7 linked regions of the Homo sapiens genome follow. The protein of the gene in region 4 purifies or fractionates together with the protein of the main gene of each other region. This does not show direct contact. Each region holds a gene or a part of one and is shown on either strand. Other genes may lie near its edges. The genes, in order: TRPM7, C1QL1, SIDT2, PNLDC1, GALNT12, CSGALNACT2 and TMX1.

Region 1 (3,500 bases), on a different chromosome or scaffold from region 4:
CAAGCCTTATAAAGGTGCTATGTCCTTAATTTTATCCTAAATCTCTTTGCAAGTGTTCCATGTCATAATGTGATTACTCAGCTTGTGCCTCTATAAACAAAAAGGTTTATTTCTAAAATTTTACTTATTACTTGCAAAATCCCAAAGCATGAAGAAATTGTAATTGTGTAACAGGTTTTCTGTTGGTTATTCAGTGGCCTATGGTTAAACTATTTGCCTGATTTCTGACTCCTACATTTCTGCACCTTATTTTAAAAGATATAAGATAACAAAAAGCAAAGTTCAAAGCAGTATCTATCACCATGACAAAACCAAAGGTACATGCCATTTTACCCAAATTTTTAATCATAAAAACAGGCCACATGGATATACTTATCTATAATGGGTATATCAATATACTCATCCAATATACTTTAAGTAACTTAAAAGTAACAGATTATTAAATTAGTAGATAGGTCTTGAATTTCAGAATTTGGGAATAATCTTTTCATAAAGTAGTAACTTTTTTCAAGGCTGCTAGGGGCCATAATCTCCAATATTTGCCATTTGTTCCCCTTCTAGCTCAAAGAGAGGCCATAATCATTATAGACACCTGAAAAGGATTCAAAAGTTAAGTAGAGGAAAAAAGAAGCCCATTATACCACTTGGGATGAAATGCCAATCATCCATCTTGCTCCCTCTTTACCCCCCACCATTACACTCACACATCAAGGCATTTTACTACACATTTAGACTAATTCTTCTGTTCTTTTTATCTAATCACATGCTTTATATCAAATTATTTCTAAAGTATACCTTGTACCAGGAATTTTTCCTCATATTCAGCCTTCCCATCCACATATCAGATAACAACATTTGTGTACAGGTGTGAGCTACAAAAGGTCTAAGTCTTGAAGAAACTGCTAACTTAAGGCAGGTTGAATTACTCCAGTTCTTCAGTTCATAAGTGAGCAATTTCATAGCCATGGTTTCATCTTGTCTGAAGGACTGTTCTAATAATTCAACGGCCAACTGACCAAAATCACTATAAAAAGATAAAAGCCAAAATATACTCAGATTAACAAACTGCAATTTTAAACCACTATTCTTATATACATTAATACTTCCTACTTTTTAATATTCTCACACACACTTACAGAATTATGAGGCATTAAAACCATAACTCTGTTTTCAGACATCTACATCTATGTGGAAATCACAAAATATTAAAATATGTCGCATTATGTACAAGATTGAGAAGGTGAATCCAGAGCACATTCTCCCGGTCCTAGAAATCAAACTATAATCTCAAAGGGAATCAAAACTCACAATGCTACAATGCTCTGTTCAAAAAAGTTTATGTAGTATTTCAAACACAGAAAACAGTTGGTACCTGGTAGAGAGGAAAAACAATGTGACTAGGGACTAACCTAATTATGAAAAACATCTGAATCTTGAAGTCCCACTAAGTAACCATAGGATCCCTGTTAAAGAGTTATTTTCAGTAACAATTATCACTGCCCTCTAAATACCCCACTTGGGGAGCCGGAGGTCTTAGTATATATTAGAAAACTTCTACAAACTACTTTTCCAGTTTAATATTCCAACACTGCCCCTCTAAGTAAATTGTAAACTTTTATGAACTATGTCGTTACTCTGTGTATGTAGTTCTAGCTTCTGAAGTGCCTTCCCAGTTGAATTCAGTCTATTTTCTTATAACACAGCTCCAACTTCACTTCCACCCTTTCCTTACCAATTCAAATGGAACTTTCTAATCCAATTGCTACTATTTGCAAAAATTAAAATGAATTCTGGCATTTCTTCTTTGTTTCGAGACAGGGTCTATTGCTGTCACCTAGGCTGGAGTGCAATGGCATGATCACAGCTCACTGCAGCCTTAACCTCCCAGGCTCAAGTGATCCTTCCACCTCAGCCTCCTGAGTAGCTGGGACCACAGACAAGTACCACCACACCCAGTTAATTTTTAAATTTCATGTAGAGACGGGGTCTGCCTATGTTGCCCAGGCTGCATTTCTTCTTTCTTGCTGAGATATTTAATTCTTGAGTTGCAAATATAATAACCTCTTTTTCATAGAGGCAGAAAGTTTCTTTTAATTAAAAAAATATATACTTATATAATTTTCTGTCAATTGTACCAATAAGATTATACATATAAATACATCACCATTAAGTACGTGGCACTGTAACAGCCACTCAAACAATACCTACTTTGAATTTTTAAAATGTTTTCAAATGATAAAATACCACTTACTTGGAATACTGTTTTAGTTCTTCTGAAGTATCATCTACCAGGTCACTCTGCTTTGCTTCATATGCCATTGAACGATAGATCTTACAGGCAACTAATGCTTTAGCCATTGATTCTTCACCATGTTGCCATAAAAAACGGGCCATGACCTGCCTCTTCATAAGGCAAGCCCAAATTAAAAGTTCATTAAGTGGATAAGGAAAGCGCTTGGTTTCTGGATCATCAATGTCTACAATTTCATCTTTGGTTCTTTTCTTCTTTCCTTCTTCCATAACTGTATCAATCTTCCAGGGAAAATAAAGTTATAAAGCTCATTATAATAAGGCCATATGAAATTTATGTCAGTGAAAATTTTAGTAAAATATCTTTACATTATTCAGCTCCATAAAACTGCACAATAGCATAAATTTTATAAACTTGATTTTTATTATAGCTCATAATTCATTTTATGAAAATGCTGTTTCAACAAAAATGCCTTTGCAATAAACATTTTCCAAAATTTAAGGGCCTAAATATTTCAACTAATATTCTAATAGAACATAATTTTAATAAAGGGTTAGATAACATTTTTGTTATACATGTTCTTAATCAAGTAAAACTGGAATGAAAGGAGTCAGGTAAACATTTATTAAAACATTTTAATTTGGTTATTATCATACCTAAATATGAAAATGTACGCTGGGCGCGGTGGCCCACGCCTGTAATCCCAGCAGTTTGGGAGGCTGAGGAGGATGGATCACGAGGTCAAGAGATCGAGACCATACTGGCCAACATGGTGAAACCCAGTCTCTACTAAAAATACAAAAAATTAGCCAGTGTAGTGCTGGGTGCCTGTAGTCTCAGCTACTCGGGAGGCTGAGGCAGGAGAATCACTCGAACCTGGGAGGTGGAGGTTGCAGTGAGCCAAAATTGTGCCACTACACTCCAGCCTGGTGACAGAGCAAGACTCCTGTCTCAAAAAAAAAAAAAAAAAAAAAAAGGAACAGAATCATTAACTTATAATTAATATCTCTGTGTGTGAGAAAATGACAATTCTAGGACATATCCAAAAACGAAAGGTAATTCTTACTAAATCAATTAGTTTTTTTTGTTTAATAATACTAAGTAATTTAGAAAGAAGAAAATAAAAACCCAGAAAGAATAATATTTAAATAAATTTACCTTTGGTCGGTAGGGCTGTGCTGTCTTAATGAAATGGTTATGCCTCATTTTTTCCTTTTTATCTGCCCTATTGCCAAAAGATTCATGACTC
Region 2 (3,055 bases), on a different chromosome or scaffold from region 4:
ACGGTGGCTCACGCCTGTAATCCCAGCACTTTGGGAGGCCGAGGCAAGTGGATCATGAGGTCAGGAGATCAAGACCATCCTGGCTAACACGGTGAAACCCCATCTCTACTAAAAATACAAAAAATTAGCTGGGCGTGGTGGCAGGCACCTGTAGTCCCAGCTACTTGGGAGGCTAAGGCGGGAGAATGGCGTGAACCCGGGAGGCGGAGCTTGCAGTGAGCTGAGATCGCGCCACTGCACTACAGCCTGGGTGACAGAGCGAGACTCCGTCTCAAAAAAAAAAAAAAATACAAACATTAGCTGGGCGTGATGGTGCATACCTGTAATCCCAGTTAGTCAGGAGGCTGAGGCAAGAGAATAACTTGAACCCAGGAGGCAGAGGTTGCAATGAGGTGAGATCTCGCCACTGTACTCTAGCCTGGGCAACAGAGTGAGACTCTGTCTCAAAAAAAAAAGAAAAGAAAAGAAAAGATAAAAACGAAAAGAAAAGAAAACCAGGAGAAATAGTGGGGCCCGTAGCCCCCTCTCCCATGTCCTTTATGACTTCTTCCAAATTGCCCAAGAGACTCATTTGATCTCACTAGCCATCCCACTTGTTAGTTTTGAGCCCCTACTAGGAGCCAGATTTGAGGCTTTGTAGGAGTTCAGTCCACTTGCCCTCCAAGACCTCATGGCCTATGCAGGGGGAACATTCATAACATACAACCACACGCCCCAGCGAATACTGTGTTAAAGGTGGGCTGGGAGCCCAGCTGATGACTTTGGTCCCCAAATGTGTTGGCTGGGAGGGAGTGCTTCAGTAGGGCCTACCCTGGTGCAGACCAACCTGATGCAGGGGGAGAAGATGGTGAACCTTGGTCTGCAAAGTGAGGAGATACCACAAGGGAGAATATAAAAGGTCAAGTGTAGGGGAAAGCCAGCTCAGAGGTGGACAAGGACATTTAAATAAGCAGAGAAAAAAATGGCAGGACCAGACAATGTATGGGAACAAAAGAGAGAAGCTTGTATCTCTTGTGACTTCAGAACCAGGGGCCACCCTGAGCACTGCGCTTTTCCTTCCTGGCTTCCTGCCTGTAGAGAGGCTTCCAGAATTTCTTTAGGGAGGCAGAGCTGAATCTGGGCTCTGCCTCCTCTCCGGGCAAGTTCGGGATGGGGAGCACCACCTTCATGCCTGGCACTGAGGCTCCCTCTGTCCTTATCTGAGGCCCACTGGCCCCAGTCCTTAGGGGTAGCCTTGCATCAGCACCCCTGATGGCACCAAGTCCTGGCCATTAGGATGCAAGGAGCCTGGGGAAAGGACTCTGGGTTGGCAGTGGGGCCCTGGGTGTGGTGAGTTGCCTGCAGCTGCCTCCAAGATCCACAGTTCAGGTGGGTTGGAGAGGACACAAAATTAATAAACTGGGCAGGGGGCTTTGTGAGGATGTGCCAGGGCCTGTGGTCAGGGTGCTGCTTATCCAGGGTAGGAGGCTGTGGGGAGGTGAGTATCACCAATGGGCCAGGGGTTTGACAACAGAATCTGAGTGTGGCGAGAGGTGCTGGCATATATAAATTGAAGGTGGTGGTATAAAGACCTAAGAAGGCTGTGCACAGTGGCTCACGCCTGTAATCCCAGCACTTTGGGAGGCTGAGGCGGGCGGATCACCAGAGGTCAGGAGTTCGAGACCAGCCTGTCTAACATGGTGAAACCCTGTCTCTACTAAAAATACAAAAAAACATAGCCGGGTGTGGTGGTGGGTGCCTGTAATTCCAGTTACTCGGGAGGCTGAGGTAGGAGAATCACTTGAACCTGGGAAGTGGAAGTTGCAGTGAGCCAAGATCGCACCACTGCACTCCATCCTGGGTGACAGAGCAAGACTCTGTCTCAAAAAAGAAAAAAGACCTAAGGAGATCAGCCTCTCCCCTGGTGGTGGCAGATGGCCCCCTGGCTATCCTTTCTGGCCCCTAATACCTTTCACAACACAGAGCACAGTGCCTGGCACAGTGGGAATGCAGTTAATGTATGTATGAAAATGCAAGTGTCCCCCATGGGCCAGGCTGGCTCCCCTATGGGAGCCACATCTGTACACCCAAGACCCCAGCATTGATCTGAGGGCAGGAACGTGTTTCCTGGATGCCCTCTCACCCAGTTCCCTTGGTCAGACCATTGCCTCAGTTTCCCCTCCTGGCAGCCCTTGAGGAGCTGATTATACAGCGCTCCCTCATAACAAGGCCCAAACCTGCTTTCCTGCTTCCTTGGCAACCTCATTTCCCCACACTTCCCCTTGGACCCCAGGAGGAGCTGCAGGCCTCAACTGTCTCCAGTCAGGCAGAGAATTGGGACCCCTGGGTTCCATTCTTGGATCCCCCACCATCTAAGGATGGAAGGGCATAAATTCTCTCTGCCTCCATGGATAATTAGGATAATTACGGCAACAATCATGGTGATGAATAAATAATAAACATAAGCATAACAGTTCTGATGCAGTCACATCACCAGGAGATTCCTGATGACAGATGACTCTGTTCCAATGGATTTGGCTATTAAGGAGCACACTGTTTTAATGAGTTAAGGCTAAATTAATCTGGGCAATAAAAATAATTGTTATTAGTAGTAATTTATTAGCAAAGATAATGAAATGCATGTGTAATAATAAATATTACCAGGATTAGGGCTCAGGGAACAATACAGAAGTTGGCTGTTTGCTTTCAGCTCTTCCCTAATAACTCAAAGCCCCATCAAGATCTAATGTTTTTTTTTCTTTATCATCAAAAGACTTTTACAGAGGTGGCAGTGGTGAGGCAAAGTCTTCTCATCCATTTTCTAGACAGAGAAACTGAGCTCCTTGGCAGACAGCATCTCCCCCTTCATTTATTCCCTCCCACCTTTAACTAGACCAGTTTTCCCAGCTAAGCACACAAAGAGTTTCTTCTCAGGTTGGGAAGAAGAGGTTGAGGGAAAAGAAGGGGCTGGAGAAGGGCTTTAAAGGGAGGCCCTCATGCAAATATGTCGGGTCCTCTTCATTGCAGCATCGCGGCTGAGTCAGCAGCTCTGGCACAGCTGACCTGCAGTGCTGCC
Region 3 (3,500 bases), on a different chromosome or scaffold from region 4:
TCCTTCTCTACTAAAAATACAAAAAATTAGCCGGGCGTGGTGGCGGGCACCTGTAGTCCCAGCTACTCGGTAGGCTGAGGCAGGAGAATGGCGTGAACCTGGGAGGTGGAGCTTGCAGTAAGCCGAGATTGCGCCACTGCACTCCAGCCTGGGCAACAGAGCAAGACTCCATCTCGGAAAAAAAAAAAAAAAAGAGAGAGAGAGAGAGGCACCCTCTGGCTGGGCACGGTGGCTCATGCCTGTAATCCCACACTCTGGGAGGCCAAGGTGGGCGGATCACCTGAGGTCAAGAGTTCAAGACCAGCCTGGCCAACATGGTGAAACCCCCGTCTCTACTAAAAATACAAAAATTAGCTGGGCATGGCGGCAGGTGCCTGTAATCCCAGCAACTCAGGAGGCTGAGGCAGGAGAATCATTTGAACCCGGGAGGCGGAGATTGCAGTGAGTAGAGATCTTGCCACTGCATTACAGCCTGGGTGACAGAGCAAGAGTCCATCTCAAAAAAAGAAAGAGAGGCACCTTCTTTCCCCTCCTATCACAGTCCCTTAGGGCCCCATTTAATCATTCAGTAAATATTTATTGAGCACTGAGTAGGGGCCTGGTACTTTCCTGCTAATTTTATCTGCTAATTTTGTGCTAGCCCTCATAACTTAGTGAGATTAACTGGACAAATTTTACTCCCTCTGTTATAGAGACAGGGAAACTGAGACTCAATCTTATAGCAGTGTTTCAATGACAAATTAGGGTATGTTTCTGAATATGAGATTAAGAAACATCCTTCAGAATAAATAAGATTATAACTATGCTAACAAAGCAAAATTAAAGCTCTTTCTTACAATCAGGTTACACTGCTGATAAGTGGCAGAAAGTGAACTGGACCTCAGTTCTTCCATCTTTAGTCATGAACTCTCTGTACCACATCACACTGGAACTCACCTCCCGGCCCTCCCCATCTAGAAGCCTGCCAAGAACACTCCCCGTTCCTACCCCACCAGCATATCTGCATCCTCATCACCCACTTCAGGGCACACCCTATATCCCAGGTCTGAAAGCAGGAGCCAGAGAGGCTTGTCCATCCCCTCTCAGCCACCTGCAGCACTCACACGTGACTGCTTGAGACACCAGCACTGACAGGGTTTTCTGGCGGTGCCCTTGATCGACCGGTTCATCTGGAAGTAAAATGTCAAAGTGGTAAACTAGTTGCCTGGAGCTTGGCTAGAGTCAGTGGGATCAGGCCTTTGAGAGACTGGAGCCAAAAACCCATGTCCTATCAGGTCCACCAATCAGCCACGCAGGCTCTTCTTGCTCCCAGAAAGTGACCAAGACCTCCCCATCCCTAGCCAGGCCCAGGGCACAAAATGTACCTTCTGCGAAGGGGTAGAAAGGCAGGGAGCCCCCGCAGGCTTGGTCTTCGGTCTTCACCACCACCACCACATAAAAGCTGTTGCTGGGGAAGTCTTTGCGCTGCAGGATGATGATGATAAATATCTTCTTCATCATCATCATCATCATTCTTTTCTAAATACTTGTTCTGGGGCCAGACATTATGCTAAATTCTTCATAGATATATTTTACTTAATCCTCACAAGATTTTTTTTTTTTTTGAGACGGAGTTTCACTCCTATTGCCTAGGCTGGAGTGCCATGGCATGATCTCAGCTCACTGCAACCTCCGCCTCCCGGGTTCAAACAATTCTCCTGCTTCAACCTCCCAAGTAGCTGGGATTACAGGCGTCCATCACCACGCCCAGCTAATTTTTATGTTTTTAGTAGAGATGGGGTTTCACCATGTTGGCCAGGCTGGTCTTGAACGCCTGATCTCAGGTGATCTGCCCGCCTCAGCCTCCCGAAGTGTGGGATTACAGGCGTGAGCCACTGCGCCTGACCTTTTTTTTCTTGAGACAGAGTTTCACTCCTTTTGCCCAGGCTGGAGTGCAGTGGTGTGATCTCGGCTCACTGCAACCTCTGTCTCCCAGGTTCAAGTGATTCTCCTGACTCAGCCTCCCGAGTAGCTGGGATTACAGGCATGCGCCACCATGCCCAGCTAATTTTTCGTATTTTTAGTAGAGACGGGGTTTCAGCCTGTTGGCCAGGCTGGTCTTGAACTCCTGATCTCAGGTGATCCGCCCACCTCGGCCTCCCAAAGTGCTGGGATTACAGGAATGAGCCACCGCGCTCAGCCCTCTTATTGTTACAATGAATGAAGTAGGTATGACAGCCAGAAGGGGGTACTCTACTCTTTCCCATCCCCAAGAGCAACTGGGATTATGGTACAACTCTCATATATATCAGGGGACTCAAAGTCACAGGGACTGGAAGGCCAAAGACTCAGTCGTGTGTAGGATAGGAATGGGCAGAGGAAGAAGAGCTCAAGTTTGGAAAGCTACACAGCTTATCGCCCAGCCACACCTCCCACGTGGCCACATGCATTTCCTACCTGTACGGTGATGGCCGCCTTCTTGGTCATCGTCTGGTACATGCCGATGAAGGCTACGTTGTTGTCCAGGTCATAGACAGGACACTGCAGAGGGGCGGGAGAGGCAGATGGATGGGAACCTGGCCTGCCCCTCTCTTTAGCAGCCCTGCTGCCTGCTGGGGAAGAGCAAAAGGGCAGGCAACTCACCAGCACATCCTGAATGGAGATGACTGAGCAGGGGAAGGCCTTGTTGGAGGTCACCTTGACAATTACCGAGTCCACGCCTTCAGGGAACTCATACTTGAAGTACTGAGGGTGCAGGAAGGAAGGGAGAGCCCCATCTCATGAGGATGCTCTCTTGGCCCCTCTAGAAGGGAATAGTCCCCTATAAGCGAGGACCCAGAATCCTCTGAGGGGTGGGCAGTGGAGGCTCTCCGAGGAGACAGGCCTTGATCACAGCAGCCCCTTTCTCTGTATACCATTCCCTTCAACCTCAGCAGGGCACTCAGCAGAATGCCAGAGAGGCAACCAGACTCCATGTCTCTGTACAGTCCCATGCTGTCTGTCCCTCACCATGTCAGGGCCAGAGCTCCTGTTTCCAGAGAGCCCTCCATGGAGAAAACAGCCAATTCAAAAGGCCAAGCAAAGACCGCTGGCCACTCCCATTCTCATATTCAAGCTCCCCCATTTCTCCTCTCGAGCAATCAACAGGGAGATGTTACCTGGGGCTGTGCTGCTGTGGTATTGAAGCTGAACTGCTCCCCAGTCCTGCAGGGCAGAGAAGAGCCCCCACCAGTCACCCCCGGAGCCTGGGGAAGAACCAGCCCCCGTGGTCCCCTCACTCTACCCTGCAGACCTGAGCACAAAATCGTCCATGCGGCTGACCCGGAGCTGGTATGTGGTGTTGACTGGTGACAGGGTGGACACATCCACGTAGAAGAACTGAATCTCCGACTCATTCTTGGTGGGGGGCTGACACAGGGTTCGTTCCACTTTTTGGTAGAGGTACTTGCGCTGAAACCTATGGCCCGAAGCAGGGAGATAGGATGTGAGCACTGTCCCAGCCGGCCTGCCCCTCCAGAGGA
Region 4 (3,929 bases):
CCAGGCTAAATTTCAATCAGCTTTGCAGAGCCCACAAGTGAAGCTCCAGGTTGAGCAAAGAGCCCAGCCGAGTCGAGATCCCCACAGAGAAAAGTTACCGAGAAAGCTGAGTGTAGTGCAGACCACTGTGGAGGACACAGTGTCCCACTGTGCCAACGTCAAAGGTGCACACTGTGGCTGCGGGTCATTGTTTCTAAATGCACGTGGATGTCTTACGGTTTATAACACTTGTCAAAAATGTCCCCAGTGCACACGACTTCCCCTCTTCCAAGCTTCACATCCTTCCTTTACTAAACTTAGGAAGGCCATTTCTCAGAACTAAGTCAACAACAGCCAATAATAAGCCATTAGTTTTTCCCCCAGAAATAACGTCCCCTTTTCTTCATCTGGTGTCCAGCTCCTAGCACAATGACCTGCTCCTGAGACATTAGCTTAAATCTCGAGGTGCTGACTGCTCCGCCTGCATTTATAGCAAGAAAAGTTCTGACCACACATACAGGTACGATATCTAAGGACTGATTTATCATTGAGAGTGTTGACAGAATTTCACGTTCAGGACATAACAGAATTTCTAGAAAAGACCAAACAGATCCATCTGCAAACAGAATCTGATTTACACGAACACACCCAGCACACCTCCCAGAGAGCATGGGGACCCGAGGGTGGCCGCAGGAGGCCTCGCTGCACTCAGGTACCAGATCTTCCAAGGATGAACGCGAGAAGGGCCCAGGCAGTCACTATGCCACAGACTCTGCAAGACAATGACACGTGTCAGTGGCCGGGGCACCCAGCAGGCCGAGAGGCACCGACACAGGCTTGCCCCTCCTCCTTCCCAGCCCCGTGCACTCAGATGTTCTTTCTTGCTGTCACTCTCCCGACGACAACACTGAACTTCTGCCTCTCGAGGTTAGGCTGGCTCTGGGATGCAAACCGCAGGTTGAAAGAAAAAGGGTTTGCCTCGGAGCTCACTGTGCTTCCTCAGCAATGCTGTTTTCTAACGGATGTGCCCCTAACCCGCAAGCCAGAACCTCACCCAGCTCAACTGACAGCAACTCTGCCTTTCCAGCTGTTCAGGACTCAAACCCTGGATTCGTACTTGATCCTTCTCTGGTCTGTCGCTGACTCCACCCCGCTGCCCCTGGCTGCACCGAGCTGTGACCCAGCTGAAGCATCTCCTTCCTGACTGCTCTCACAGCGTCTCGCCTCCACAGTCTACCCCAACACGGAAGACAACCTGAGTCGGGTTATAGACCTTCTTGCTGTAACTTCCGCGATTCCCTCTCTCCTGAGAGAAGCCCACGTCCTCCCTGGGTGGCCCCCAGCTGGGGGGCACTGGTTCCTTCTCCTGCATCCCCCTCCTTGCTGTTTTGCTCACAATGGCCTCTCCCCGTGACACTCCGGGCACCTCCTGACTGGAAGGCTCCGTCCTGCTGCCCCCTCCGCCTGGCTCACTCCAAGTCTCTAATGAAGACCCCCATCAGCTCCTTTGAACTGCAGCCTGCCACCCACTCCTGACCCTTCTCTCATTTTTAATAAACACTTGTCACCCAACACATTATAGGGTCCATTTGTTTATCCTGTTTGTCTCCCCCAGCACGTGAGCTCCACGAGAGCAGGGATTTTCTGCTTCACTGACGAGGCCCTAGAACTACGATGGTGCCCAGCACAGCAGGTGCTCGACAGACACGCGGCATCACTGAAGGACATTCAGGGCACCACACTCGTCAACACAACCCCCTTGGCAACACACACCAGCAAGTGAGCTGTGCTCGAGTCAGACCATGCTGGGATGCTGGGACCCCGGGCACTCCAGGACCCCAGGACAGGCAGGTGGCCTCAGCCTGTCACTTACTGGAGCAGGCAGTTGACGTTTGGGGAGTGCCTCCAGTAGCGGTACAGGGAGATGCACAGGGTCGGGTGGTCCCGGTACTCCTTCAGGATGTTCCGCGCACTGCCAAAACAAGTTTGCTGTGGTCAGCCAGGCAGCAGGATGGCGCCGCCTGCTGTGATCAGGCGGGTGGAGTCAGAGAGATACAGGGATGAACGCACGAGGGGTGGGGGACGCGGACTTAGAGGCACCTACTCCTTAAACTTATTGGTCAGGAGTAAGAACTGGCTTCTTGTGAGTCGCCTGACATCAAACTTGCAGAGATTCTGAAACTTATGGTAGACTTGCTGCTCGCTGACCCCAGGCCACCTTTTGACGCTGAGGATGAGGATGGGAGGTCGGATACTGGGATAATCTGGACCAGAAAAATTCTAGAAAACATGCAGAACACAAGAGATTTTCCACAGTTCTTCCTGACTTCTTATCCAGTCTGAAGATCTCAAAAGAAACTAGGAAAGGCTCTGCTTGGGGCAGGGAGGGGAAGAGAAGGAAGGATGAGTCCATGTTGGCTTTAGTGGAGAAACATGAGAGGAAAGAAAAACCCAGCTCTCATCTCACCGACCACCGAAATCCCTCTCACGAGTCCCAGAGAGCACTGGCCGCTTCCCAGCAAAGCCTCTGAACTCTGAATGGGGCGAGGGGGCCAAATGAGATCTACTCACGATCTTTGGGACCCCCGCTCGGATGAGGTTCACTTGGTTCACGTAAGGAGCCAGCACGTCAAGGTACTGAGGAAAGGATGACTCGGGCACGGGGTCGATGCTGCAAGGACAGAAAACCCCAAAGCTGTCGGGCGCACAGAAGTTCATCCACTTCCTCGGCCACAGCCAAGAATCCGGTGACAGAACAGAAGGACACTCCCTCGGACGGCTCTCCCTCCCTCCTGCCCTCACAAGTCTTGGGGCTCTGGTTGGGTGCTTCCCCAGCTGGCAAGTCTAAAAGCATTCTCCGTGGCCACATAGAAGAAGAGCTTCCAGACAGTCACCATCTGCTGGTGATGGTTTGGTGAGGGTCCCACTGGTGACAAACAGCAATAGGCTCAGAGAATCAGTGCGAGGCCACTATTCAGAGAAAGCCCCATGCTGTCCCCCCTTGGTAAGACATCACCTTTGATTCCAAAAGGGCATCCCTCATCCCACAGCCTCCTCCCACTGCCAGTGCCCCCTCTGTCCAGGGAGCACACACACCTGAGCGCAGGGCCCCGGCAAAACCACGGGCCACACAGACAGGCAGGGAGGGCTTTTAGGCCATGAGGATTAAAAGAAATAAAAGATGTGTGACACCAGGCACTGAGGTGCCCCACCACTGCTAGCTCCTTCACTGTCCAGCACACACGTACTTACCAGGGGGCCCTTTAACAGTCAAACCACAAGAGAGGGGGTTAGGCTGGCACATTTAAGAAATAAGCTTCCCATCCGTGTGTCACAGAACTTTTGTATTTATAACATCCACTGCTAAAATGGACAAATATAGGCAGTACCCAAGTTAATAGATCATAGTCCAAAAAGATATTTCTACATCAATCCCAAAGCACACATTAGAATTTTGATGGGCTCCTTCACCTGGCTGGCTAAGTCCTACTTAACTAACGTGCATGCCAAGGACGGTGCTGTAGCGTGCACGCTGCTAATGTGTTTCTGGTGCCTACGTGCCCAGGGCTGCAGGCATCAAAGATGGTGTTGCCATGGGGAAATGCACTGAAGATTCCAATGTGGGGTTCCACTAATCTCTCCCTAGCCTATGTGCCCCCAACAAAGGATATGTCATTCATTGACCTGAACACTTTCTCCTCATACCTCACTGTTGCTTACATGGCTATAAGAAAGCAAGTGAGAGACAATCAAGCACACACCAGGCTGGGAAGGACTGAGACAGGTGTCAGAACCTAAGCCTAACCCCACTGCCTTGGCCTCCTGACATCTGCGGGGATGAGGGGGCCAGGACCCATACAGGCAGGCACAGGGGTGGTAGGAAGGGCTACTCCTGTGGCACAGAGCCATTTGTGGGCTGCTGCCCAGTCAGGGACAAGATTTCTATACCA
Region 5 (3,500 bases), on a different chromosome or scaffold from region 4:
ATTGAAGCACACCGGCTATTTAAACACCCATTAGTTTACAATGACACTCAAGAAGAGAAAAAGCCAAAAAAAACAATGAGCCACAACAAAAAAAAAAACAACCCAGTAGATACAACTGGAGGAAACTAAAATACCAACTCTTACTCTGAAAATAAGCAAATAAAGAAAAGACTTAAGAATTTGTTATGCCTTGGCCGGGCATGGTGGCTCATGCCTGTAATCCCAATAGTTTGGGAGGCTGAGGCAGGCAGATCACCTGAGGTCAGTAGTTCAAGACCAGCCTGGCCAACATAGTGAAACCCCGTCTCTGCTAAAAATACAAAAAAAAAAAATTAGCCAGGCATGGTGGCAGGTGCCTATAATCCCAGCTACTCGGGAGGCTGAGGCAGGAGAATTGCTTGAACCCATGAGGCAGAGGTTGCAGTGAGCTGAGAGCGCGCCATTGCACTCCAGCCTGGGGGACAAGAGCAAGACTTTTCTCTCAAAAAAAAAAAAAAGAATTTGTCGTGCCTTTTCTGTATGAATTCTAAAACTCACATATACCAAATTGCTTTAGTTAATGAGGGAGTGTTCTTCTTTATGAAAAATTTCAGCTAATAAATGTGGAAGAAATGAAAGAGAAAAATCACCATTTGGCAACTCCATTTGAAATAATGGGCCTAGGCAATGGTTATCAGTGGCTACTAAAAACATGAGACAGAGGCTGATGGGGGTCTTATAATGACTGGTCCAGGTGAGGGATACTCCATTAACCCACTGGTCAACCTTATCACTAAAGATGACCATACTTCCTATGCTCCTGATATGACACAACATGAACACATAACATCACCCACAAAGTGTTCTTGCCAAAAAGGTGGATCCTGACTCTAATCAAACCTTTAGAACTCACTTCTATCTTAAAGAAATATGGGGGAGAGAGGCACAACTTGAAGACACCACAAAGAAAAAAATAGCAATTGCAAGAGTGAGACACTCCACAGGTAACATATTGTTTTTTCAACAAGTTAAAGATATTAACAAGAAAAAGGAAGAGGGCTGCCTTAGATTAAAAGAGATTTAGGAGACAAGACACAACCATCACATGCAATGTGTGCACCTTGTTTGGATCCCAATTCGAATTAGCCAGCCACTCAAAGAGAAACTGGAAAAGTTGGGGGAATATGTATTAGAACTAGACATTAAATGATACCAAGAAATACTTGTTCATTTCTACGGTTTTGTAAGATAATGTCCAAATGTTATGAAAATGCATAAAATGCAGAGGAGAGAAATGACACAATGCCCGGGATTTGCTTAAAAAGAGGAAAATGTGGAGGTGAAGTACAGGAGAGAGAAAGAGATAAAGAGAGGCAGGATCTTGAAAATTCTAGAATCTCAGGGATGGTATTCATTATACCATTCTCATACCATTCTCTCTGCATTTCTATATGTTTGAATATTTTCATAATGAAAATAGAATGTAACATGAATATCCTGCTTTATATGTATCAAAGACTTCTAGAATGGAACACCAGCACTTCTGATCAACACATCACAGCAGAGGAGACCTTGCTAAGCTGGTGTCATTCCCAGCAAAAACAAAAGACACTGGACATTTTATCTGGTCTCATCCCAAAAACATTTTTTAGGTTTTTTGAAATACTCGAAGTGACTCCCCTATACCCACTATTGCCTCTGTAGACTTCCAAACTTGGAATTATTAACTAGTCCAGCCATTGAGACTAGAAGTAATATGATAAGGCGTTGGTAAAAACTAGGACATGGAAACACCAGATAAGCCTCAGTTTCCTTACCTACAAAATAGTTGTCAATTTTGAGATGGCTTCCAGCTCTGACATTCTGCACCTACGGCCCAGACGCTCACAGGGAGAAAGAAGGGCAGTGGATAAAAAGGTGGTGGGGGGTGGGCAGGCGGGTGGGAGTGGAGGAAGCCAGTGCTCCCCATGACGTGGCCTTTCTTGCCCAGGATTTGCAGAGCAGACCCAGAGGCCAGGGAAGTCCCTGCCTGCCGTGGGCCCACCACCCTCACTCACCATCCCGAAGAAGCCAGGCCTGTCCTCAGGCACATGCAGTTCTGGATACACAGTCTCCAAGAACCACTTGAAGTCTTTACACTGGAGCTTGTCCCGGAGCTGCTTCCTCTCTGTCACATCCCCAAAAGGTTCCTGAGAAAACAACAAAACAGTGAGACCCCATGGGTCCTAGTGCTTCCTTTCAAAGCCCCTGTGTTCACTGATGCTCACTTACTAACCACCAGCCAGCTTTGATGGAGCATTCGTCGCATGCCAGGCCCTGTGTGGAGCACAGAGGATAGAAAACATCCTTGCACCTAATTCTAGCTTCTAGTATGAGAGGCTGTCACACAGACAATTCCATTCCTAGGTGCTCTGTTGGCAGGGGGGTGTGACCAGGTGCACAAGGGTAGAGGACAACCCGCCTGCTGATGGAGTGAAGGAGCCAAGCCCTGGGGCTGCACTGGCATCTATGGATCCCGGACCTGTGACCCATGCTTGTGATCAGAAGTCATCCTGAAACCCAACCAGGGAAATGTCAGTTTCACCGAAACATATGCCATGACTTTCTGGTTTACTACTAATATCTGAATATCCACTTTCAAACACAGGTAAATATTCTAGATGTAATCATGTTCTCAGTATGAAATAAGCAAAAAGAAATACTTATGCAAGTTTGGTTTTATGGGCAAAACTAATGACTGAGAGCTTTTGAATAATTAAATACAGCAAGCCTCTATTTAGTATCGCAAATGTGCAGCCACAAGAAAAATGCTGAGTGCAGAAATATTACCGTACCTGCACTGTCATGTTAAACAATTAAAAGCTGACAAGTTAAATATTGAACAAAATGGTAATAATAAGTACATGTTTGAATAAGATTTCAGATTTCTGCTATTTCCCAGAGTTCTTTCACTGGTGAAAGTCACTGCGCCCCCAGCTTCAGCCAAGTATCCATTTAGCACTTGGCCTTGGACATGAAGCCTAAGGGTGCATTCAGTGCCCCCCTAAAATATTCTCTGGGAACCCTCAGGAAAAGGGAACTATGGGTTCCAGACTGTGCATGAGGAAAGAGTGGGTGTTTCTACTCTATGGTGCTGGGCAAGACGGAGGAGGCAGAAGCAAATGACCATGGAGCCCAGAGCCAGAGAGGGGCTGAGTGGGAGTCCAGCTGAGAACCCATGGGCTCTGCAGAGCAGAGCAAGAGGTGCGCTGCAGAGTACAGGCCCCAAGCCCAGTTCTACCTCCTATCAGCCACAGGGCCTGGACAAGTTCCTTCCAACAGCGTCTCTCTGAGCTTCAGTTTTCTCATCTATAAAATGAGAATTTTATTGCTACCCTGCAGGGTTGCTGGAAGGACTCAGAAGAGACTTCCATGAAGTGGCCTGATGAGAAGCCTTAGAGCAAGACCTTCTTGTATTGCCAAGCAGCCCTACTAGTTATGCAAATGCAGGGCAAGCAGGCACCCTGCCATGGAGCATGCAG
Region 6 (3,500 bases), on a different chromosome or scaffold from region 4:
TCTTGAAACAACCAAAAACAAACAAACAACTTTTCCTGCCAACAAACCCAAAATATGAAACAATGATTTTCAAGATATTTAACATCAGGTAACAAAGGACAGTGATCCCCAGAGAAACAAGAAACAAGTGGTTGCCAGCTTACTGCCTTAGTTTCTGAGCCACACAAGGAGGGGAACCTAAGCAGAGCCCAGCAGATTCCCTGAGTTCATGGGATGCAGCTCATAGTCTGAAGAGACCAAGGTATCTAGGATTAAAGCATATAGTACCAGAGTGGATACAGCTGCACACAGAGAGAACTCCAGAAATCTGAATAGGATATCCCATGGGTATTTGGCAGAGCACTGATAAGTAAAGGCTTATGAGGCAACTAACGGGCTAAGGAAAGGACCACACACAAAATTAGAGGACACAGAACCCAGCATTCATACAGGGCCAGGATTAGTGCATGTTCCCAACAGACAGACTGGAAAACCTCAGAATTCCCAGGGCACTCGGTAGAGCACTCAAAAAAATCTTGTCTCAGTAGTGGGAAATAATTAGCTCTAGACTAAACATGGCACTAATCCTGCCAATACATCTTAAAAGCAAGACTTGAAAGGATCACATTATTTCCAAGTAATAGCACAACAAGCCTTAAGAATATTTATAAGAATACAGAAATATCCAGTACTCAACAAAATAAAATTCACAATATCTGGCATCTCAACAAAAATTACCAGGTATAAAAAAATATGATCCATAATGAAAAAAATCAACAATTAAAACTGACCAATGATTAGAACTGACAGATGTGGGAATCTGCAGAAAAAGGACACCAAAACAGCTATCATAACTGTATTTTTAAAATGATGTTTATGTTCAAAAATTTAAGTAGAGGTATGAATGACATAAAAGAGATCCAAGTTAAACTTCAGGAGATGAAAATTTCAGTGTCTGAGATGAAAAATACACTGAATGGGATTAATGGCAGATTAGATATTTTAGAAGAAAATATTAGTAAACTAGAGATGTAGCAAAAGAAACTATGCAACATACAGAAAGAAAAAAGAATCAAAAATATAAACAAAGCATTGATAAGCTCTGTGACAACTTCAAACAGCCTAATATACATGTAACTGGAGTCCCCAAAGAAGGGGGAAGGAGTCAGGAGAAATACTTAAACAAATAAGGCTGAAAATTTCCCAAATTTGATGGAAACTATAAACACACATAAGAAGCTCAACCAATCCCAAATAGCCATAAAGAAAATTATAGCAAGGTACATGATAATCAAATTGCTCAAATCCAATGTAAAGAGAAAATCTTTAAACTGGCCACATGAAAAATGCACATCACATACAAGGAACAAAAGATAATAATGACAGATTACTCTTTGAAAACTGAAAGTAATTAGACAGTGGAACAATGATCTTTAAAGAACTAAAAAGAAAAATATGCCAGCCTACAATTCTATACCCAGAGAAATTATCTTTGAAAAAGGCAAAATACTTTCTCTACATAAAAAGCTAAAGGAATTCATCACCATCATACCTGTACTGTAAGTCTTTTAGGCAGAGGAACATAATACCAGAAAGGAATATGGATTTATACAAAGCAATGAAAAACATCATTAATGTTAACGACATTGGTAACTAAGATTTTTGCTCATTATTATCTAAATCTCTTCAAAAGATAACTGAATAAAATGGACAAAATCCTAGAAAGATAGAAACTAACAAAACTGATTTAAGAAGAAATACCAGATATGAATAGACTTATATGACAAAAGATTGAATTAATAATAATAAAAAAACTACTCACAATGAAAAGTCCAGGCCAAGAGGCTTCACTGGTGGAATGTACCAAACATTTATTTATTATTACTATTATTTTTTTTGAGACAGAGTTTCGCTCTTGTTGCCCAGGCTGGAGTGCAATGGCGCGATCTCAGCTCACCGCAACCTCCGCCTCCCACGTTCAAGGGATTCTCCTGCCTCAGCCTGCCGAGTAGCTAGGATTACAGGCATGCACCACCACGCCTGGCTAATTCTGTATTTTTAGTAGAGATGGGGTTTCTCCATGTTGGTCAGGCTGGTCTTGAACTCTCGACCTCAGGTGATCCACCCGCCTCAGCCTCGAAAAGTGCTGGGATCACAGGCGTGAGCCACCACACCCAGCCTAGCAAACATTTAAATAAGAATTATTATTATTAAATAAGAATTATCTTCACAGACTCTTCCAAAAAATAGAAGAGGAAGCATTCTATAAGGTCAGTATCATCCTGCTACCAAATCCAGACATTAAAAGAAAACCATAGGCCAATATCCTATATGAATATAAATACAAAAATCCTCAACAAAATACTAGCAAAACGAACCCAGCAATATATAAGAGGAATCATACATCATGGCCAAATAAGATTTATCCCAGGACTGCAAGGTTGGTTTAACATCTGAAAATCAATTAATGCAATATACCATATCAATAGAAGACAAAATTCACTTGATCATCTCAACAGACATGGAAAAAGCATTTGACAAAATCCAACACCATTTCCTAATAAAAACCATTCAATAGGGGCTGGGTGCGGTGGCTCACACCTGTAATTCCAGCACTTTGGAAGGCCGAGGTGGGCAGATCCCACGAGGTCAGGAGATAGAGACCATCCTGGCTAGCACAATGAAACCCCGCCTCTACTAAAAATACAAAAAATTAGCCGGGTGTGGTGGTGGCATGCACCTGCAGTCCCAGCTACTCAGGAGGCTGAGTTAGGAGAATCACATGGACCTGGGAGGCGGAGGTTGCAGTGAGCCGAGATCACGCCACTGCACTGCAGCCTGGGCGACAAAGCGAGACTCCATCTCAAAAAACCAAACCAAACCAAACCAAACACCATTCAATAAACTAGAAGACACCTTCCTAATCTAAGAAAAGGGACCTACAAAAAACCCATAGCTAACATTGTATTTAATGATGAAAGACTGTATGCCTTCCCCCAAGATCAGGAATAAGACAAGGATGTCTGTTCTTGTCACTTCTATTTATATTGTACTAGAGGAGGTTGTAGCCAAGGCAATTAGGCAAGAAAATGAAATAAAAGGCATCCAGATTGAAAAGGAAGAAGTAAAACTATCCTTATTTGCAGATGATATGATCTGTATGCAGAAAATCCTAAGGAATTCACTAAAAATCTATTATAACTAATAAATGAGTTCAGCCAGTTGTAGGATACAATATCGATATACAAAAATCAATTGTATTTCTCTACATTAGCAACAAGCAATCTGAAAATGAAATTAAAAAAACAATCCTGTATACAATATGGCATCAAAAAGAATAAAATAGGAATAATGTTAACAAAAGAACTGCAAGACTTGTATTCATAGAAACTACAAAACATTGTTGGAAGAAAGTTAAGATTTAAATAAACAGAAAGACACCACACTCATGATTGGAAGGCTTAATATTGCTAAAATGGTAATATTCCCCAATTAATGTACAGATTAAACACAATCCTCTT
Region 7 (3,500 bases), on a different chromosome or scaffold from region 4:
ATGCTTGTAATTATTTAAATTGTTCTGTAGTACAGTTCAGTGTCAGTGGCATCCTAAATCAACTATAGGGATTGCTTTTCCCAATATCCTACCAGAAAAAACTTACAGTTGGCTGGCATTCAAAGAATAATCTTCAAATGTGGCGGCCGGTATACTAATGAAAGACTTCAAGAGTAGAATATACTCCACTTATAAAACGACACCAAATAAATATTATTAAATAGCTACATGCTATATGCAATGTTAAAATTCCCCATAATATAAGAGTCAAGAAAATAACAATGTTCCAAAATCCACTGGGCTACATTCTTATATGAAATATACATCTCCTCTACCTTCCTTTATGCCATAGCTGATAAAGACCAACAATCCACAGTTAGAATTCTAAGCTGGAAGAGCAACCTGTGAAATGTGTGATTGTGATTACAGAAATGAATAGGACTATCGTGAATAAAAAATAAACATTTTAAAATATACTTACTTGAAGGGTATGGGTACGGCTGTGGTCTGCGCCTTTTTGAAGGACAAAGGCAATCTGCCACAAATATCATACACTGTAAAAATAAACATTGTAAGAAATCTGAATGTAGAATATATGCCACAGCTAATGTAACTATTTTAAATAATCACATTTTTAAATATCTTTCTTCCTAGCACTCCAAAAATGAAATACTTACGAGTCCTAATAACAGTCCGGAAAACAGAGTTGCTAAAGCAAAAACAGTATATGATCCCCACACTGGCAATCCAAGGTCTTCAATAAAGTAGTTATGGCAAGTCTAAAATCAAAAGAAAAAAAAAAACTAAAAATCTGTTCATTTTTGTTAAAGTGATAGTGGTAAAAATGTTTAAGATAAAAATATTTTAGTCCATACCCTGATCCACATAGATAGCTGAAAGAGTGCTGACATACTACTCATCCTAAAAATAAAAGAGATGATTAAAAAACTGAGTAACATACACAGATTTGTCTATACATACTATTTTCTACTCTATAATTTCCCCAATATGACAGATTTTATTGCTGTTAATCAAGACTAGTGACACATCACTGATTTCATGCCTGTAATAAGCCTTCTTCATGAAAACTGTTTCTAAATTGACACTACCATGTGACAGCCTCATAAATAAAAATACTTGACAGTATTTTTTTCCTTTTCTCCCACTGTTTTGATGTTAATATTTTGTATTTCATCTGATGATTTCTCCAATACACTGAGTAAAGGGTTACAAGTTCCATGAAACCAGTTGGAAAAGGCAACTCTTACTCACCCTTAAAAGCCTTCAAAGCAAGACCAAAGGGAGGCTAAAGTAAGGACTGGAAACAATTGTCAAGCCAATTCTTTCCATTTAAGAACTATCCCTCTTTTTTATTGAAATTAATTAAAATTTACAAGAGCATTAGTTTGACATCTTTTAATGATATACAAAATTATTACATAGGAAATAAATGCTAAGTCATCATATAAGCAAAAATTAGTATTTTACATAATTAAATGGCCAGTTTTAAAAAGGCATGTTTCAGAAATAAGAAAGGTCTGTGAGTTCCCAATTGTAGCTGCTTGAAAATAGACTTACAAGCAACTACTTTCTTCTACTGGAAGGACAAGATTCATTTATGAGATGAGATTTCAGAGAACAAAAATCAGTTATACTTTTAGTTCGACACAGAAAGGTATTTTAATCATGTTGCTTCTGTTGTTTAAAAGCCAAGTGAGAAGAGAAACAAGGAACTGAAACATAAAGCACTGTATAGCCTCACTGTAGTCTGCAGTAATTTATTTCAGAAACAGTAGGATCCAAAATTGAGTTGGGCATGGTAGTTCAATGGGTGAGTGTTAACAGGGCTAATCTTTCTCCCATCCCCAGAATCTAGAGCATTTTTCTCTTATGTGATTACTGTCCCAACTCCCTATCCTCCAAAGGTAAGTGTGGTGAGAGGACAGGAAGAGACAGATGGCCACACAGGATCAGTCCATGGTGACCTCAGCAAAACTCACTGTTCCCAGAGGTCTCTCACATGACCAGTGAGGCCTTGTACTCCAACAGCAAAGCAGAAAGCATGCTTGCTACTTCCAATCCTTATCACTCCATAGCCAGTTGCTACGAGGAAATTCATCTACCCTCTAGATATCTATAAAGCTCAGTGCTTAGGCACACTATTACGGTCACCGTTTATACACACTATTCATATAAGAAGTTATCAGACAGGTGGAATAACCAACCAAACATAATTCAGTCGCTTGACATCAAGAGTTGAAGTTTATGTAATTAATTTAGTTGGTATCGGCAATTATTGACGGTCTCTATGGAGACAGAACATTAAAAGACAAATTGAAGTCTGGAGGTAGCATGAGTACAAGTTTGAGCCTACTCATTCAAATTATTACACTCGAGTGATAGCTTTACCCATTACACTGTGAAGACTCTTAGGGGCATTTAGTTTTTGATGATACATATGACCAAATCTAGCAAGCTAAAATATTCCTGAAAAGGTGTACAACTTACTTCTATAAAATGCCTTCTCTAACTCAAGAAGCATGAAAATATGTTTGACTTAGAAGGTCAAACTAAAAAGATCAAACATGTAGGCCGTGCATAGTGGCTCACACCTGTAATCCCAGCACTCTGGGAGGCCGAGGTGGGCAAATCACGAGGTCAGGAGATCAAGACCATCCTGGCTAACACAGTGAAACCCCGTCTCTACTAAAAATACAAAAAAATTAGCCACGTGTGGCGGTGGGCACCTGTAGTCCCAGCTACTCGGGAGGCTGAGGCAGGAGAATGGCGTGAACCCAGGAGGCAGAGCTTGCAGTGAGCCGAGATTGCGCCACTGCACTCCAGCCTGGGCGACAGAGCAAGACTCCATCTCAAAAAAAAAAAAAAAAAAAAAATCAAACATGTAATAAATGTGGATATACCTTAACAGCTCAAGAAACAAACTGAGTATGAATGCTTTACATAAAATATAATTATCTGTTCCAATTAATTATGAAATGGGTAAGAGAAAAAGCCCTCATACTTACAGAACAGAACCTGGACCAAACCATGATGAAACGGGCTCAATACTCTTCCACTCTTTATCACTTATAAAGTTTATGAAGTCCTTCTTAGTCCTTGGACCCTGATAGCGCCTAAATTCACCATCTTTACAACTAAAGAGAATCAGAATTAAATATTATCCAGCACTGAGAAATAATTTAATATTTATTTTGCTATTTTTTCACTTCACTTTACAGTCAATTCTAACATTCAAAAGCATTAGCAATGTACAAGTATTAATAGCAAATTATACTATTTACCTACTCATGACATTTTAGCCCCCAATTTAACAATGAGGTTACATTTTTTTAAATCATAAGCCTTAAAATGTAATTACTGTTATTCTTCCAAGTAATGAAACTATGAAATACAGTAAGTAGATAAATCTCAGGAAAGTACTTTTAAGCCTTATGTGTAATACACATATTAAAAGAATTATATAAAAATTATTAGAATAG

Evidence for each region.
Region 1: the proteins of PNLDC1 (region 4) and TRPM7 purify together in Homo sapiens (affinity purification with mass spectrometry; 2 studies listed by BioGRID and IntAct, with this or other methods). This does not show direct contact.
Region 2: the proteins of PNLDC1 (region 4) and C1QL1 purify together in Homo sapiens (affinity purification with mass spectrometry; 2 studies listed by BioGRID and IntAct, with this or other methods). This does not show direct contact.
Region 3: the proteins of PNLDC1 (region 4) and SIDT2 purify together in Homo sapiens (affinity purification with mass spectrometry; one large-scale study listed by BioGRID and IntAct). This does not show direct contact.
Region 5: the proteins of PNLDC1 (region 4) and GALNT12 purify together in Homo sapiens (affinity purification with mass spectrometry; one large-scale study listed by BioGRID and IntAct). This does not show direct contact.
Region 6: the proteins of PNLDC1 (region 4) and CSGALNACT2 purify together in Homo sapiens (affinity purification with mass spectrometry; 2 studies listed by BioGRID and IntAct, with this or other methods). This does not show direct contact.
Region 7: the proteins of PNLDC1 (region 4) and TMX1 purify together in Homo sapiens (affinity purification with mass spectrometry; one large-scale study listed by BioGRID and IntAct). This does not show direct contact.

What each region holds. Positions count from the first base shown.
Region 1 is NC_000015.10:50,610,298-50,613,797, forward strand, and holds part of TRPM7 (transient receptor potential cation channel subfamily M member 7), read right to left. Parts: coding exon 3,410-3,500; intron 2,533-3,409; coding exon 2,252-2,532; intron 1,025-2,251; coding exon 796-1,024; intron 1-795. UniProt on the Homo sapiens protein: Bifunctional protein that combines an ion channel with an intrinsic kinase domain, enabling it to modulate cellular functions either by conducting ions through the pore or by phosphorylating downstream proteins via its kinase domain.
Region 2 is NC_000017.11:44,962,249-44,965,303, reverse strand, and holds part of C1QL1 (C1q-related factor precursor), read left to right. Parts: intron 1-3,055. UniProt on the Homo sapiens protein: May regulate the number of excitatory synapses that are formed on hippocampus neurons. Has no effect on inhibitory synapses.
Region 3 is NC_000011.10:117,181,743-117,185,242, reverse strand, and holds part of SIDT2 (SID1 transmembrane family member 2 precursor), read right to left. Parts: intron 3,437-3,500; coding exon 3,272-3,436; intron 3,184-3,271; coding exon 3,138-3,183; intron 2,725-3,137; coding exon 2,623-2,724; intron 2,521-2,622; coding exon 2,437-2,520; intron 1,465-2,436; coding exon 1,365-1,464; intron 1,170-1,364; coding exon 1,104-1,169; intron 1-1,103.
Region 4 is NC_000006.12:159,817,276-159,821,204, reverse strand, and holds the end of PNLDC1 (poly(A)-specific ribonuclease PNLDC1), read right to left. Parts: intron 2,651-3,929; coding exon 2,551-2,650; intron 2,260-2,550; coding exon 2,084-2,259; intron 1,952-2,083; coding exon 1,853-1,951; intron 752-1,852; coding exon 688-751; 3' UTR 501-687; downstream 1-500. UniProt on the Homo sapiens protein: 3'-exoribonuclease that has a preference for poly(A) tails of mRNAs, thereby efficiently degrading poly(A) tails.
Region 5 is NC_000009.12:98,838,670-98,842,169, reverse strand, and holds part of GALNT12 (polypeptide N-acetylgalactosaminyltransferase 12), read right to left. Parts: intron 2,169-3,500; coding exon 2,037-2,168; intron 1-2,036. UniProt on the Homo sapiens protein: Catalyzes the initial reaction in O-linked oligosaccharide biosynthesis, the transfer of an N-acetyl-D-galactosamine residue to a serine or threonine residue on the protein receptor.
Region 6 is NC_000010.11:43,148,445-43,151,944, reverse strand, and holds part of CSGALNACT2 (chondroitin sulfate N-acetylgalactosaminyltransferase 2), read right to left. Parts: intron 2,159-3,500; exon of another isoform or gene 1,802-2,158; intron 1-1,801. UniProt on the Homo sapiens protein: Transfers 1,4-N-acetylgalactosamine (GalNAc) from UDP-GalNAc to the non-reducing end of glucuronic acid (GlcUA). Required for addition of the first GalNAc to the core tetrasaccharide linker and for elongation of chondroitin chains.
Region 7 is NC_000014.9:51,246,747-51,250,246, reverse strand, and holds part of TMX1 (thioredoxin-related transmembrane protein 1 precursor), read right to left. Parts: intron 3,156-3,500; coding exon 3,027-3,155; intron 922-3,026; coding exon 876-921; intron 780-875; coding exon 678-779; intron 555-677; coding exon 482-554; intron 1-481. UniProt on the Homo sapiens protein: Thiredoxin domain-containing protein that participates in various redox reactions through the reversible oxidation of its active center dithiol to a disulfide and catalyze dithiol-disulfide exchange reactions.